Linked DNA regions of Homo sapiens. The protein of the gene in region 1 purifies or fractionates together with the protein of each later gene. This does not show direct contact. Each region holds a gene or a part of one and is shown in the gene's direction. Other genes may lie near its edges.

Region 1 (3,652 bases):
TGCTTCAGCCTCCCCAGCAGCTGGGATTGCAGGCGCCCATCACGCCCAGCTAATTTTTGTACTTTTAGTAGAGATGGGGTTTCACCATCTTGGCCAGGCTAGTCTCGAACTCCTGACCTCAGGTGATCCACCTACCTCGGCCTCCCAAAGTGCTGGAATTACAGGTGTGAGCCACCGTGCCGGCTGGCAGCCCTGTTATTAATGTTAGCTATTATTCCTGTTGTCCCCTTCTCTAGGAAGTGTTGGCACCAGGAGCCTTCGCAGCCCTTGGGGGCTCCCTGGCGGCTCCTTGGAGGAGATGAGGCTTGATGTGAGGGGAGCGCGGGAAGAGCGCAATTCTGCCAATACCCCAGAATTGTTTTCCCCAAGATGCCTCTGCACATTCTACTACTACTGAATTTCCCAGCCAGGCGCTGAGCAGAAGGCCCCATGGGGCTATAGGACTGGTAGTCGTCAGTGCCAAACCCGTGTCAGGAAAGGTGGTGTTCTTAGCCATTCAGTCATTCATTCACTAAGGGACAGCTCAGTGCCAGACACTGCTCTATAACTTGTGGATGTGGCAGGAAAGGAGAGAGACCCAGTTTTTCCCCCTCATGCAACTAGGAGATCCAGAAAAATGAACTGAGCCCTACTGGCAGAGTCAGGGAAGACTTCCCGGAGGAAGCGGCATGCAAACTGGGAACCTAAGGAGGAAAAGGCAGTGGCTAAGTCTGTGGGTAGGGCTGGGAGGATGGGGGAAAGGGTGTTCCTGGCAGGGGAAATGGCAGGGCCAAATACCTGGAAGGAAGAGAAAACACGAGACTTCCAGGGAAACCCCCTCCTTCTACCCACTTCCAGTTCCTTCCAGTTCCACCCCCTCCTCACCACTGGGGGAGACTGTGCTGTCTAGAGACTTCTCCAGCAGCTTCCCTGACCTGGTGAGACTTTAAGCCCGGGCTCTGAGCACTGGGCACCTGGTCAGGGCCGCCTTCCAGGTGAAGTTTATTAGAACAGTTCTAAGAGGGCATGTAGTTATTTTGCCAGCATATTTTATACAACAAGATTTTCCTTTTGCAGAATAGCAAATCATAACAATTTGATGAATGAATCCTTTCGTAGGCCCCATATGGTTCCAGTTTCCTTGTGATGATCTCACATGTGGCCCTATAAGTAAACAGGGTGGGAGGGGGGAACCACTGTGTCAACTTCCCTGGGATAGGAGACCCCCTCAGGCTGGAGGGGAGCTCAGGACTGGCTAAGTCATCTGCCACAAGTCACCCAGCGAGGAGCGGGGCTGGGGCTGGGCCTAGAGCTGGGCTGGGCCCCACCTCCTTTAACCCCACAGTGGTCCTAACTAGAGGCTGGGGTGGGAGGGAGCGAGGCACCAGTCGCCATAGCTTCCTACAGGTTATTTGCGGGTTACTACACTGTGCGGAGCCAACATGAGAAGGGGGTTAGGAAGCTGTGTGTTGGTCCCAATTCTGAAAGTGTCTGGAGAGATCTTGATGACACCCACAAACTCTCTGCCTCTGTTTCCTTCACTATAAGATGTGAGTGTCCTCTGGGTAATTATTATAGGTGAAATGCTTTACATTTAGTAACCAATGTCGTCATCTCAGCAGCCCTACGAAATAGGTGATCCAGTGTTGTTTTGAACCTATTTTTATTTTTTATTATTATTTTTGAGACGGGGTCTCACTCTGCCGGCCAGGCTGGAGGGCAGTAGTGTGATCTCGGCTCACTGTAACCTCCACCTCCTGTATTCAAACCATTCTCCTGCCTCAGTCTCCTGAGTAGCTGCGACTACAGGCATGCGCCACCACACCTGGCTAATTTTTGTATTTTTAGTAGAGATGTAGTTTCACCATGTTGGCCAGACTGGTCTTGAACTCCTGACCTCAAGTGATCCACCTGTCTCGGCCTCCCAAAGTGTTGGGATTACAGGCGTGAGCCACTGCGCCTGGCCCTGTTTTTCATTTTGGATCCTGTTACCCACTGGAGTGAAAAGGTCCTGTGAGTTTTGCTACCTAGGTATGAAGCCCGGCTTCTTGTTTTGGCCTAGAACTCCTCTATGGACCTGCACAGTGCCATTTCTGAGAGTCACTGATGCGTGTGATAGGTTGAGGATGGAAATCCAACACCTGTGCACCCAGCATGGTCTCCCCACAGCACGGGGACTCGAGCACCTTCCTGCCCCACCCCTGCCCCAGTTCACCTGTGTTACCTAGCTATACCCTCACCCTAGCCCTGCAAAGGAGGTGCTGTCATTGTCCCCCTCATCAATGAGGGGACATGGAGGCCCAGAGAGTCCAGGTAGCAAGACTGTGGGTGCATAGCTGCTAAGTGACAGCAGCAGGACTTGAGCTTGGGCAGCTTGGCCCTGACGTCATACCCCTCACCAGCACACTGGACAGCCTCGCGTATCTTTTTTTTTGAGACGGAGTCTTGCACTGTCTGGGGTGTGATCTTGGCTCACTGCAACCTCTGCCTCCCAGGTTCAAGCAATCCTCCTGCCTCAGCCTCCCAAGTAGCTGGGATTACAGGTGCCCGCCACCACGCCTGGCTAATTTTTTGTATTCTTAGTAGAGACGGGGTTTCACTATGTTGGCCAGAGTGGTCTCTAACTCCTGACCTCGTGATCTGCTCACCTTGGCCTCCCAAAGTGCTGGAATTACAGGCGTGAGCCACCGCGCCCAGCCAGCCTCACGCACCTTTAGAAGACTTGAATCTTTAAGTCTAGTTCAGGGGGGGATGCCTGTTTCCTTTGGAGTGTGATGGTGGGGTGTGTATGAGCTTTACAGTCAGAGCTGGATCTGAAGCCTGCCTCTGCAGAGGCTGCATGGCCTCGGGCAACTTGGTGATTCTCTCTTTGCCCCCACTTTATAGAATACCTAGGATCATGTGAGATCATTTGTGCGTTCATTCATTCACGGACATTTATTGAATGACTGCTTAGGGCAGGCATGGGGGCAGGAGGCAGAATGAGACAGTGTCTGGCTCAGACTCATGGCACTAAGTACAGAGTTAATTATTTGTGCTAAGTGCTGGGAAGCTCAGAGTACAAAGAGACCATGCAAGAAAGAAAACATATTTGTCCCATGTGCATGCGTGTATATGTGCATATGTGTGTGCATTGGCGGTAGTTAGGGAGGACTTCCTGGAGGAAGGGACCTTTGAGCTGGTGTGGCATGAACAAGCTGGCCTGAGGAGAGCAAGCGTCCTGGGACCCTCCAGCCTTTGAAGCTCCAGGTTCCAAATGCCAGGTGCAGAGGATGCATGACAGGTGGCCAGAGGGGTGAGAGGAACACCAGGGGAGATGCGTCCTGGAAGCCCAGGAGGCCCTTGGAGCAGGGTGGGATGTTGCAGAAGGATGAGGATGCCCCTCTGTGCACTGGGCTGATGTAGGAAGTTGCTGCCGGGGCCAGAGCTGCCTGGAGGGAACTGTGGGGAGAATGCTTCTCGCCTTCCCAGAGAGGTACCTTCTGCTCCTTCTCTCTTGCTGCCTCCTCCCGGCTGGTTCACCATCCAAGACCCCTGTCATCTCCATGACAGATGCTGGGAACAGGCTCAGCAGTGGACACAGTCAGGTCTTGTGTTGGGGATGGGGCCAGGAGCCCTAAGAGCAGGCTCCAGTTCGCCCTGCTTCCTCCTGCAGAGGCCAGGTGGTCTTGAA
Region 2 (3,652 bases), on another chromosome or scaffold:
GAGGCTTTTCCTAGAATTCTCACTGGATCCAATCTCTAAAGGCTAGGGAAGCTGTTTTCCATGACATCACTCTTGGACTACTTCTAGTCATAGTGTGGAATAAGCAGAGAAGCATTAAATTAAAGTCTTCTGATGAAAAATAGCATTCAAGCAGGGTTTTTTTTTTCTTATAAGGCTTCTTGTATTATAGGATGACGAAATGCTAAACATACCTGAAAAGTGAAGTAATTTGGTGCCAGTCTGGAGGCTGGAGGACCCAGGGCCCTCCTAATAGCTTAGTTAAATGGTCATTTGCAATTTGGTCCTGAGTTATAAAAATATTTTGATGACAAGAAAGAATTTCCAGTATTAAACAAATTAAAGTTAACTTACACAACGTCTCCTCCCATATTAAAGTGAGTTTTCAATTTGAGTAGTGTATTGAGAGTAAAGTGACCGCTAATAGAGCTTAAAAGTCTGTCTTTAAATTTGTCTTTTCTTTTATATTGGTATGTTGAGAAGTTGGCTGCTTTGAGATTGTCAAATTTACATTTTTTTACTTTATGGGTTACAGAAGTGAGAAATGTTATGACTCAGAAATTAATTCTGTTTTTATCCGTAGTAAGCCTTTGCATTCTCTTTTCGATATGCAACTGTGGCATTTTCTGCATAGGCATCAATTTTGGTAGGAGAACAGTTTGGGGATGAAGATAGTATGAAATCATTTAAATTTTTCATTGAGGGTAAGTATATTATATCAACCTCTGAGAATCTAGCTTTTGCATTGAATACCTTAAGCTTTTGTATGAATTTTCAAGCAGCTGTGGAAGGAATGTGAAAGCAATAAATTATTGCTTATGGCACAAACATAGAGGTTAATTTTGAAATGTCTTTTAATTGCCTATAATTTTGCCTTCACATCAGAATGGCAGCCTTATAACTGAAAAGGAAGCATTTAATTTCTTTGCCTTTAATTTCCTGTCCAGTTTTACCCCCACCAAACTTCTTTTTTTACTGGTCACTAGAGAGTTTGAAGTGTTCAAAAATTCTGTGATATAAATAGCAGTAATAGTCTTCCAGGGCAGAGGTAGGAAGAGGTTGAGGTTTGTGCGTGCACGTGTGTGTGTGTGTGTGTGTGTTGTCACTTATCTCTTACACTTTCAGTTGTTCTCAAGCCTGTGGTCTCAGGACTTCTTTGTACTTATTTGTACTCTTAAAAATTAGTGGGGGCCGGGCTTGGTGGCTCACACCTGTAATCCCAGCACTTTGAGAGGCCGAGGCGGGTGGATCGCTTGAGGCCAGGAGTTCGAGACCAGCCTGGGCAACATGGTGAAACTCCGTCTCTACTAAAAATAAAAAAATGAGCTGGGCGTGGTGGTGGGCTCCTGTAATCCCAGCTACTCAGGAGGCTGAGGCAGGAGAATCGCTTGAACCCCGGAGCAGAGGTTGCAGAGATCATGCCACTGTACTCCAGCCTGGGTGCAGAGTGAGACTGTCTCAAAAAATAAATAAACAAATAAAAATTAATTCTATTACATGGTAACCTAAATAACATTTTTTTATGAAAAATAACTTTTCTAAAACAGTTAAGAACTTGGTGAAAAGAGTGGCATTGTTTTAAATTTTTGCATATCTCTTTAATATCTGGCTTAATAAAAGCCAATGGGCTTCTCATCAGCTTCTGCATTCAGTCTGTTGCAATATCACATACCATGTGTAAACCTCTAGAAAACAGAATGAAAGTGAAAAAGACAAATAACTATTCTTTATTTATGTATTTATTTTGAGAAGGAGTCTTGCTCTGTCGCCCTGGCTGGAGGTGGCGCAATCTTGGCTCACTGCAACCTCTGCCTCCTGGGTTCAAGCAATTCTCGTGCCTCACCCTCCTGAGTAGCTGGAATCAGACGCACATGCCATCACCCCTGGCTAAGTTTTGTATTTTTTAGTAGAGATAGGGTTTCACCATATTGACCAGGCTGGTTTTGAACTCCTGAGCTCAAGTGATCAGCCCACCTCTACCTCCCAAGGTGCTAGGATCACGGATGTGAGCCACTGTGCCCGGCTGACCAATAACTTTAAAAAAATTATTTGGATAATAATTTTGACATTGGGAAGCCCCTTTAGTGGGGACTGGGATCTTTTAGGACAACTGGATTCACTTGTCCCCAGATCATGCTTTGAGAATCCCTATACTAATCATTCTTAGGCACAAAAATGTGAGGCTTTCTTTTATTTAGTCAGTACCAAGTTTATGAAACAAGACACGTTCTTCAGTATTTCTTTCCTGGTAGTATAAGTATGCCTTGTCATTTGGTCTAATTGGTTTCCCTCTTGAAAAAAAAAAAACCTACTATTTGAAATTCTGAAGGCCATGTATAAAGTGTTGATAAACCTATATATGAAAAGTAAGGATACAGAATTTTTGTACATTGAACATTTTGTCAGTAAATGTTTTTCCTCAAAGCCTCTTAAATTTTTCCTCCAGCACTCATTTAAAGAGTTCTTATTTAAGGTTTTTGTGTTTTACAATGATTCGTTTTTTTCTTTTGGGAGAGTGGGGCTACGCACTTCTTGTTGAGCACGCTACTGCTGCCGCGGCTGTCTCTGCCATTGCAAAGTAGTTCTTATAATAGTTTTCTTCCTTAAATTGATATAATTCTGTACTTAGATTTCTTTTTAGAGACAGGGCCTTGTTCTGTTGCCCAGACTGGAATGCAGTGGCTTCATCGTGGTTCACTGCAGCCTCGACATCCTCACCGCAAGCGATTTTCCTGCCTCAGCCTCCCAAGTAGCTGGGGCCACAGGAGCACGCCACCAAGCTCTGCTATTTAAAAAAATTTTTTTGTAGGGAAGAGGTCTGGCCACATTGCCCAGGCTGGTCTTGAACTGGATCAAGTGATCCTCGTGCCTTGCCTCCCAAAATGTTGGGATTACAGGCATGAGGCCGCTGTAACCAGTTAAAGAATTATGTACACAATTTTTTTTTTTTTTTTTTTTTTTTTTTGGGACATGGTCTCACTCTGTTGCCCAGGCTGAAGTTCAGTGGTGGATTATAGCTCATTGCAGCCTCGGCCTCCCGGGCTCAGTTTATCCTCTGACCTCAGCCTCCTGAGTAGCTGGGACTACAGTCACACACCACCACGTCTGACTAATTTTTATGTTTTTAGTAGAGATGGGGTTTTGCCACGTTGCCCATGCTGGCCTCGAACTCCCGAGCTCAAGCGATATGCCCATCTCGGCCTCCCAAAGTGGTGGGATTATAGACGTGAGCCACTGCGCCTGACTCTGATCTGTTATAAATCTGCATTATGATAAACCCTAGGGAGGCATGGGGTTGGTAGAGAGGGGAGACTGAGGGTTCTCACTTAGGTTAATTCATTTATTCACCACCCTAACTTGATAATAAGATGATGATGATTATTAGTAATGTATGGATGGAAACCAAGATAGGAAGTTAACAAAATTTCTGTAGGTCACACAGTAAGCACTCTGATTTCAGAGGTTTTGCTCTTTCCGACCACACTATTTTGTATTTTTTGCAAATAGAATCTAATTTTTTTTTTTTTTTTTTTGAGACAGGCTCTTAGTTTGTTGCCCAGGCTGGAGTACAATGGCGCCATCTCAGCTCACTGCAACCTCTGCCTCCTGGGCTCAAGCAATCTTCCTGCCTCAG
Region 3 (3,652 bases), on another chromosome or scaffold:
TGTTGAAACAGATCTCCAGAACTACTTCATCTTACAAATCTGAAACTCTCTACCTATTAAACAAAACAACCTACCTTTCCTCCCATTCCCAGCCCCTGGCAACCACCATTCTACACTCTGTCTCTATGAATTTGACTATTCTAGATATCTCATAGAAGTGGAATCACACAGTATTTGTTTTGTGAGTAACTTATTTCACTTAGCATAATGTCCTCAAAGTTGGTTCATGTTGTAACGTGTGACAGGATTTCCTTTAAGGCTGAAAAGAACATTCCATTGTATCTATATACCACAGTTTGTTTATCTGTTCACCCATTAATGGACATTTGGATTGCTTCTACCTCTTGGTAGAATGTAAAATTGTACCATGTAAAATTGTGAATAGTGCTCCTGTAAACATGGATATGCAGATATTTCTTTGAGATCCTGCTTTCAGTTGTTTTGGATATAGGCACAGGAGTGGGATTGCTGGATCATATGGTAATTATAATTTTAATTTTAGTATCGTAATTCTAATTTCTTAGGTAGAACTACCATACTGTTTTCCACAGCAGTTGTACCATTTTCCAGTCCTACCTACAGTATACAAGGGTTCCAGTTCTCCATCCCTTAGTCAGCAGTTGCTATTTACTGTTTTTGTCATAGTGGTCATCCTGATGGGTGTGATACGATACCTCATTTTGTTTTGATTTGCATTTCTCTGATGATTAGTGATATTGAGCATCTTTTTATGTGCTTGTTGGCCACTTGTAAATCATCTTTGGGGAAATATCTACTCACATCCTTTGACCATTTTTTAATTAGGTTATTTTGATTTTTGTTGAGTTGTGAGAGTTCTTTATATGTTCTGGAGACATGAGTTTTAATGTAACAGTATGACAGATTTATTAATGGTTTCAGATTCTGCATTGTAACTAACCTTTAAGGAGCTAACTGTTGAATTCTGTGGTTTCATATAAGTATATCTAGAATTATCTGAAAGACGATTAGAATATTCTTTTCAGTATCATATCTTTGAGAGGCTGGATTTTATACCTGAACTGAAAGAGCAGATCATAACAGATTGAGTGCTAAAGCAGATATGAGAATCTACTTGTTCTTTTTAAAACCTAGACATTAGGAGATTTGCAAAAATGTAAAATTAAGCCACTCTTAATGTATTTTGATAGGAAATAGTTATTTTTAATTTAAAATGCATTGATATATAGGTATTTTTAAATAAATGTTTCTAGATTTGTTTTTCATTTTCTGAAGTAGTAAATATTGGTAGGCATTATCTATGTAAACAGATGCTTTTTTAGGTCTGTAGTAATTTCCATTTATGTTTTAATTTTTTTTTTAGAGACAGGATCTCGCTTTGTCACCCAGGCTGGAGTATAGTGGTGTGATCAGGGCTCACTGCTGTCTCAACACGTTGAGCTCAAACAGTCCTCCTGCCTCAGTCTCCTGAGTTGCTGGGACTACAGGCACTCACCACAGTACCCTGCTAATTTTTAACTTTTTGTAGAGATGAGATCTCATTATGTTGCCCAGGCTGGTCTCAAACTCCTGGCCTCAAGCAATCCTCCTGCCTGGGGCTCAAAGTGCTAGGATTATAGATGTGAGTCGCTGTGCCCAGCCAGTAATTTTTAAGAATGCACATGGAGTTCTGAGATCTAAGTCTGAGATCTACTGGCTTTAAGAAACTAGTGGGGTTTTTTTACTGTCATACACGGGGGGAATTCTGTGTAATTTTTTATTATTACTGCGTACTTAAAACCAGCCATACATGTTTAGGGTTTGCTGATAAAATTAAATAGCAATACATGTATCAAGAAAATCTCACTTTTTTGTTTCTTTTGATGTAACAGAAATAGAAGTTTGTTGAATGAGGAAAATAGGAGAGCTAATTGTTTGTTGTTGTTGTTTTTGTTGTTGTTAAGACAGGGCCTCACTCCCGTAGCCCAGGCTGGAGTGCAGTGGCGCCATCTTGTCTCACTGCAGCCTCGACCTCTGGGTTTAGGTGATTCACCACCTGAGCCTTCTCAGTAGCTGGGACTACAGGCCTGCACTGCCACACCTGGCTAATTTTTTGTATTTTTAGTAGAGACGGGGTTTTGTCATGTTGCCCAGGCTGGCCTCAAACTTCTGGGCTCAAGTGATTCGCCCGCCTTGGACTCCCAAAGTGCTAGGATTACAGGCGTGAGCCACCGTGCTTGTCTCTAATTGTTTGTTTGTTTGTTTGTTTGTTTTTTAAAGATAATTGTTTAAATTTGGTATAAAGACAGTTATCTAAAATTGTGGACTGGAGAAGTCTTAAAACCAATGGGATCCTTCATAGTTTTTCCAGTATTAAAAAGATGAAGGTGATAATTTTCACCACTTTTGAAAAATATTAAGGGCTAGGACCGTTAATCTATCATTTCAGAGACCTGAGCTCCCAACCACATGGGGTATCTGATTAAATCATACAAATACTGACCTGCTATGATCTAGGTATAAAACAAGAAAGGGAAGGTCTCTGCTTTCATGGGGATGTACAAGCAACTAACAAGTACACAAATAACATAAAGTGGGATAACTTTAGATCATGGTGAATGTTATTAAGAGGTAAAATTGGGTAATGTGACTGGGATTTGTGGGGCTACCTTGTTGGTCAGGAGAACTCCAAAAGGAACCGGCCTTCTGAAGGTATGGGGAAGAGCTTATCAGGCAGAGGAGAGTGTGTCCTAATGGGAGAGGAAGAAGAGCAGAGTAGAGAACGCATGAACAACAAGGAGGAAGATGGGAAACCTGAGGGCAGAGGCGTGAAGGCTTTTAGGGCTTGGGGGCTATGGTGAGCAGTTTGGTTGTTTTTCAAATTATAAAGGGAAGGCATGGGAACATTTTAGATCACACAATGTGGTATCAGTGACACAACGATTACTTTGGTTGCAGTGAAGAATAAGATTGTAGGAGCAAGAGAGTAAAAACCTATGCCTTAATAAAAAAATGGAAATAAGACTGAAGGAAAACAAACACCAATTTCTTTAAAAAAAAAAAACAAAAAAAAAACCCTCTGTGCCTTGAATAGCTTTTCTAAGTTTTAAATAAACGTTCTGTGGTTATGTAAGATGCTAATACAGGAGAAGCAAAGTGAACCGTATACAGGAACTCTACTATTTTTCCAGTTCTTCTGTAAGTCTGAAATTATCTCAAAATTTAACTGTTAAGTAAACAATAACAAACAGTATTTTATACCTTGAATGAACAATTAAAACTTTTGATTTGGGTACAGAACCAAGAGCAGATGAGTCCAGAAAAATAAAAAATCATATTTTTTTCAATTAACTGACTTGGGACAAAATACTTCTATTCTGTTGAATCCATCTCTGAGCTGGGGCCCAGTAGTTTGTCTTTGGTTTTTGTACTTTTTAAAGCTTTCCCAGATTCTGATGCTTGCTAATACGTTGCATGGACAAAATTTCAGGTGTAGCCTTCTTTAGTAAATTCAGTCTTCATAGTCGGTAATCAGCGAAACACTTTGTCAACTTTTTTTTTTTTTTTTTAATCCCCAGCGACATCTCGAATCAGCGATGCACACTTGGCAGACACAATGATTGGCAAAGCAGTGGAACATATGTTTGAGACAGAGGATGGTTCTAAAGATGAGTGGAGGGGAATGGTCTTAGCA

Evidence for each region.
Region 2: the proteins of FBLN1 (region 1) and KLHL15 purify together in Homo sapiens (co-immunoprecipitation; one large-scale study listed by IntAct). This does not show direct contact.
Region 3: the proteins of FBLN1 (region 1) and SPIN1 fractionate together in Homo sapiens (co-fractionation; one large-scale study listed by BioGRID). This does not show direct contact.

The regions. Positions count from the first base shown.
Region 1 is NC_000022.11:45,505,883-45,509,534, forward strand, and holds part of FBLN1 (fibulin-1 isoform D precursor), read left to right. Parts: intron 1-3,652. UniProt on the Homo sapiens protein: Incorporated into fibronectin-containing matrix fibers. May play a role in cell adhesion and migration along protein fibers within the extracellular matrix (ECM).
Region 2 is NC_000023.11:24,017,111-24,020,762, reverse strand, and holds part of KLHL15 (kelch-like protein 15), read left to right. Parts: intron 1-3,652. UniProt on the Homo sapiens protein: Substrate-specific adapter for CUL3 E3 ubiquitin-protein ligase complex.
Region 3 is NC_000009.12:88,464,836-88,468,487, forward strand, and holds part of SPIN1 (spindlin-1), read left to right. Parts: intron 1-3,536; coding exon 3,537-3,652. UniProt on the Homo sapiens protein: Chromatin reader that specifically recognizes and binds histone H3 both trimethylated at 'Lys-4' and 'Lys-9' (H3K4me3K9me3) and is involved in piRNA-mediated retrotransposon silencing during spermatogenesis.